Regions from separate parts of the Homo sapiens genome. Here region 2 is linked to region 1. The links come from fine-mapping of genetic effects on gene expression. A gene starts in region 1. The other region holds a variant in brackets. All regions are shown on one strand. Distances are from middle to middle.

The links.
Region 2: its variant is fine-mapped to the expression of UBE2O in whole blood (INTERVAL, PIP 0.95).

What each region holds. Positions count from the first base shown.
Region 1 is chr17:76,451,732-76,454,636 of GRCh38, reverse strand. It overlaps UBE2O (ubiquitin conjugating enzyme E2 O), which reads left to right and starts at 1,485. Exons shown (of 18, transcript NM_022066.4): 1 at 1,485-1,912. The coding sequence starts at 1,496. It also overlaps a transcript of AANAT not described here. RefSeq lists silencers at 1,311-1,479, 1,274-1,813, 1,934-2,133.
Region 2 is chr17:76,421,880-76,424,784 of GRCh38, reverse strand. All of the region lies in intron 1 of UBE2O (ubiquitin conjugating enzyme E2 O), which reads left to right. Among named protein-coding and RNA genes, the nearest start is that of UBE2O, 30 kb to the left of the region's middle. RefSeq lists enhancers at 1,249-1,748, 1,749-2,250. The variant G/A (reference allele first, on the strand shown) is at 1,534.

The DNA.
Region 1 (2,905 bases):
TGGCCAGGGCGGTCTTGAACTCCTGACCTCAGGTGATCAGGTGATCCATCTGCTTCTGCCTCCCAAAGTGCTGGGATTACAGGCATGAGCCACCACGCCTGGCCCTAGAGTTACTTTTTATATTTTATTTATTTTTATTTATTTATTTTTTTGAGACAGAGTCTTGCTCTGTTGCCCAGGGTGGAGTGCAGTGGCGCGATCTGGGCTCACTGCAACCTCAGCCTCCCAGGTTCAAGCGATTTGCCTGCCTCAGCCTCCTGAGTAGCTGGGACTACAGCCATGTGCCACCACGCCCAGCTATTTTTTTTTTTTTTCCGTATTTTTAGTAGAGATGGGGTTTCGCCATGTTGGCCAGGATGGTCTCAATCTCTTGACCTCGTGATCCGCCCACCTCAGCCTCCCAAAGTACTGGGATGACAGGTGTGAGCTGCCGCGCCCGGCCTACTTTTTATATTTTAAAATGACAATATGGAGCAGACCATAACAGTTCTGCCAGTCTGGAATTTAGTCTAGGCAGGGAGTTTGGAAATAGTACAACAATGGTTAAGCTTATCGAAGGAGCTAAATGCCAGGCACTGTTCTACTTCACTTAATCCTCCAATTGCCCAATGAGATGAGTATTGCTATTATCATCCCTATTTCACAGATGAGCAAATTAAGATGAAAATAAGTTAATCAGTGTGCCTATTTTTATAGATTAGTAAGTGGCAGTGCCAAAAATTGGAATCCGTGGTCCCCACTCTTAGCTACCTTACTATACTACCTCTTGCCATTCATTCTTGGCTTCAGGGAGCTTTGAATTTATCTGCATGGATTTGTAGCCAAACCACTGGGACCACTGATCCTTTTGTTACCTTTCTCTGGGCCTCCTTCACCAGCTTCTGGGTCAACTTCTGAGGGGTCATGACGTTCGAACTGCTTGGAATTCCTGAATACAGTGCATTATACATATGCTCTACACGTATCTATTATAGCCTTACAAGTTGGAGTTGTTTGTTATCTATTTAATGTGTATTTGTTTTGTCTCCCCAACTAGACTGGAAACACCTAGAGGACAGGGACAGTATCTTTCTCTTTCTGCAATGCTCCCAGTGCCTGGGGGCTAGGCTAGGACGCCAAGGGAGCTCATTAAAAGTTGTTGACAGTCTCTCCACCATCCTGTGCCCCACCCCGACCACTCCCCTCTTCCTCGGTGGCCACTCCACTTCCTCCTCCCGGGTCCCCGCCCCTTCTCGCTCCCTTTAGTTGAATCCTCACTGGTCTCGCCCCTTCTTAGTGGATTCCATCCTGCCCCCGCCCCCCGCGGCATCTTCAGCGTCCCCTAGCGACGAGGCGGTGGCTCCTAGCAACTGCATCCCGGCTCCCTGACGACGGCGCCACGCAGGGACACGTCAGCGCGCTATGGCCCCGCCCCCGGCGCCCGCTGGTCCCGCCTCCCCGCGCCTCGTTCGCCGCCGCTGTCGCCGCCGCCGCCCGAGACTCGCGCAGAGCAGTTATGGCGGATCCCGCAGCCCCCACGCCCGCAGCTCCCGCTCCAGCCCAGGCCCCGGCTCCAGCCCCGGAGGCAGTCCCGGCCCCAGCCGCAGCCCCCGTCCCGGCGCCGGCGCCCGCCTCGGACTCGGCCTCCGGGCCGTCCTCGGACTCCGGCCCAGAAGCCGGCTCGCAGCGCCTGCTGTTTTCTCACGACCTGGTGTCGGGCCGTTACCGTGGCTCCGTGCACTTCGGGCTGGTGCGCCTCATCCACGGCGAGGACTCGGACTCGGAGGGCGAGGAGGAGGGCCGCGGGAGCTCGGGGTGCTCCGAGGCCGGGGGCGCGGGCCACGAGGAGGGCCGGGCCAGCCCCCTGCGCCGCGGCTACGTGCGCGTCCAGTGGTACCCGGAGGGCGTCAAGCAGCATGTGAAGGAGACCAAGGTGCGGCGGGCGGGGGCTGGGCGGCGCGGGCGGCAGGGGGTCGGCGGCCGGGCCGAGGCCAGGGAAGGACGGCGTGCAGGGCCCTGCCCGGAGCGGTGCCACTGCAGTGGCCGACGCGGGAGGACAGCCCCAGTGGAGGGTACACTCCATGCAAAGTCATTGCAGCAGCTCTGGGCGCACACGCCAGCCAGGCACTGCTGGCCCGGGACCGGGCGGGCCCTGGGCTTCCCGACTTGAGGGGACTTCTAAGACATGTTATGCTGTGGTGTCGGCCTCGAGATTTAGAGACGTGGACCGACTCCCGTGGGGACTCAGGTTCTGGGGCGCGTTCGGCGTTACACCAGTGCGGCGTTTTGCTGACCCCCAAGGAGCTCGGTACTGCATTGTGCATCCAGAAATGAAGGCCGTGCCGGGTCCGTGCAGGGAGGGGTTGTGGGCATTCCAAAACAAAGATAGAGGTGAAAATCCCAGCCGAACCCAAGAAGTTCACTAGCTTACAGGCTGCATTATGGTGAAGCCACCCAGCCTCTTTTTGTTTTACCCTGCTGCCTCCTTTTAATTGCTGCAGGGAACTTTGTGAGTAAAATCATTAGCAATCAGAGCCCCGGTATGAATAGTACTTGGGGGGGAGGATTCTGACAGCTGCGACCGGGATTGATGACTCCTAAGTGCATATGGACTCCTTGAAAAAAATAATCCAGAACCCTGGGTAGAGGGGAGTCACCAATTTGGAAACCCGAAGGTTTTTTCTTGACCTGAAGCTGTTAAGCAGACATCTGACTCCCGTATGGTTTTTGGGGTGATGCTAGTGAGTATAGCAGTTTTACAAAACAAAGAGGCTTGTCATCATAAACCCGAAACCTTGAACCCGGGTTGGTTTGGTGGCTTGTTTTCCAGAATGTGAATTCCTATCAGTAATTGACACACACACACACACACACACACCCCCCTGTATCTCACACCCCTTCTTTCTCTCCTACTTCCCCTCCCCTT
Region 2 (2,905 bases), 30 kb after region 1:
GTGCAGTGGCTCGATCATAGCTCATTGTAACCTCAAACACCTGGCTTAAGGGATCCTGCTGCCATTTTTTTATGTAGAGATAGGGTCTTACTCTGTTGCCCAGGCTGGTCTTGAACTCCTGGCCTCAAGCAATCCTCCCACCTTGGCTTCCCAAAGTGCTGGAATTACAGACATGAGCCACCTCACTCAGCCAGAAATTAATTTTAATGTTTTATTTAACTCAGTATATATCCAAGATACCATTTCAGAATGTAACGAATATAAAAAATACTAGTGGGCTGGGCACGGTGGTTCACGCCTGTAATCCCAGCACTTTGGGAGGCTGAGGTGGGCGAATCACGTGAGGTCAGGAGTTCGAGACCAGCCTGGCCAATATGGTGAAACCCTGTCTCTACAAAAATACAAAAAATTAGCAGAGTGTGGTGGCTCACACTTGTAATCCCAGCTACTGGGGAGGCTGAGACAGGAGAATCGCTTGAACCTGGGAGACAGAGGTTGCAGTGAGCCTAGGTTGTGCCATTGCACTCCAGGCTGGGCAACAAAAGTTAAATTCTGTCTCAAAAAAAAAAAAAAAAAAGGCCGGGCGCGGTGGCTCACGCCTGTAATCCCAGCACTTTGGGAGGCCGAGACGGACGGATCACAAGGTCAGGAGATCGAGACCATCCTGGCTAACATGGTGAAACCCCGTCTCTACTAAAAATACAAAAAAATTAGCTGGGCATGGTGGCGGGGGCCTGTAGTCCCAGCTACTCAGGAGGCTGAGGCAGGAGAACGGCGTGAACTTGGGAGGTGGAGCTTGCAGTGAGCCAAGATCGCGCCGCTGCACTAGCACTACAGCCTGGGTGACAGAGCGAGACTCCGTCTCAAAAAAAAAAAAAAAAAAAAAAAGAACCCAACCTGGAAGTAGCTGAGAGCCACCTGGTGTGAAGAGAGGAAGTCTCCTCTCCTGTGTTCTGGTTCCTTTGCGGACACTGTGCCGTAGGCCACCTCTATCAATTATGTCCTGGGCCTGAATCTTCAGGCTCTCCCTTGGCAGCTTCCTGCCTGACCTTATTTTTTATTTATTTATTTATTTATTTATTTATTTATTTTGAGATGGAGTGTCCCTCTGTCACCCAGGCTGGAGTGCAGTGTTGTGATCTCGGCTCACTGCAAGCTCCGCCTCCCAGGTTCAAGCGATTTTCCTGCCTCAGCCCCCCAAGTAGCTGGGACTATAGGTACGTGCCACCATGCCTGGCTAATTTTTTGTATTTTTAGTAGAGACTGGGTTTCACCATGTTAGCCAGGATGGTCTTGATCTTCTGACCTCATGATCCTCCCACCTCGGCCTCCCGAAGTGCTGGGATTACAGGCATGAGCCACCACGCCGGGCCCTCATTTTTATTTTTACTGTATTTATTTTTTAGAGATAGGGTCTTACTCTTGTCACCCAGGCTGGAGTGCATTGGCACAATCAGGGCTCACTGCAGCGTCGAATTCCTGGGCTTAAGCAATCCTCCCACCTCAGCCTCTTGAGTAGCTGGGGCTCCAGGT[G/A]CGTACCACCGTGCCCAGCTTGACCCCATTTTTAATGTCTTGAAAAGAGACCCTTCCTCAGCCCACATCCACCCCCTCACCTACCTCTTCCTCCTTTTCCTGCTCTTCAGCCGTAGTTCCTGAATGAGCTCCATGCTGTGATTCCTGTTTCCTGCATTGCCAGATGTTCTCCAGGCCCCGCCATTGGGGATTCTGCCCACGCCACCCATTGGGACTGCTGAGCCCAGGTCAGCAGGGACACTTCCCCGTGGCACTGGATCTCTCAGCAGCATCAGGCATTGCTAGCCACTCCTTTCTTGACACTTGTTCCCAATTCCCATGGCTTTTCCTTCAGCTGTCTCTAGTGACTCCTCAGAGGCACCCTTCTGTGTTCCAGGCACTTGCTGGGGTGCACTGGTGCCCAGTGCCTGCCCTTGTGTGGTTCACATTCTAACCCCCATGGGGCACACAGACTGCAGGTGTGGGAACAGTAAGTGCTGTGAAGAAAAATAAAGCAGGTGGATAGAGAATGAGGAGGAGCAATTCCAGACAGGGTGGCCAGAGAAGCCCTTCTGAGGAGGTGACATCTGAGCAGAAACTTGGGTGCAGCTATCTGGGGGAACATTTGAGCCATGGCTGTTCCCTGTGGTGGCCACACCTCCCCAAGCCTGGCGTGCCTCGGCTTCATTGCAGATGGAACCTCCGTCCTGCTCGGACACCTGCAGGACTGTCTCGTGTTCCAGATGTTTCATTGGCATCTGGCACAGCGTCTGCCCACCCAGTGGTTATTCAGTTTGCTGAATGGGCGAGGGAACAACTGAATGGATGGTCTACAGCATATGATGAACGGGAGGAAGAGGCCACTGGGTGCCCAGACCTTATGACAGAGCAGGTTGTGTCTGTGTCAAGCCCTTGCTGGAGGAGAGATGGGACTTGAGCTCAGCCTGGGAAAAGCCAGGTTAAAGTGAGCCGCCCTTTGCCCATGCCCTCTCCCCGTGTTGTTCATTTAGGTCGTGCTTCCACACATCATCTTCCCTTTCAGGACCACTCAGGCTGTGAATGAGTGGAGTGACTGAAATAGTTGGGAGCCATTGAGGAAAAGCCGGAGAGAGAGGCCACGAGAACTAGCATTTTGGGGTTACTTAGCACACGTCCCATTACTTATCACACATAGAGGTCTCAAAAACATCACCACAGGCCTGCCTGACCCTCCTGTGGCTTGGTTGTCCCTTAAAGGAAGGACACAGCAGATCCTTTGAGACATCTCCATCTTCCCATTTTCCTCCACCTGGGATTTGTGGTCCTTGAGCACTCTGGATGCAGATCCATTGGAGAGGGGATGGGTCCTCAGATGCAGTCTGGTGGCGTCATCTTGTCTTTTCCAGACTCCTGG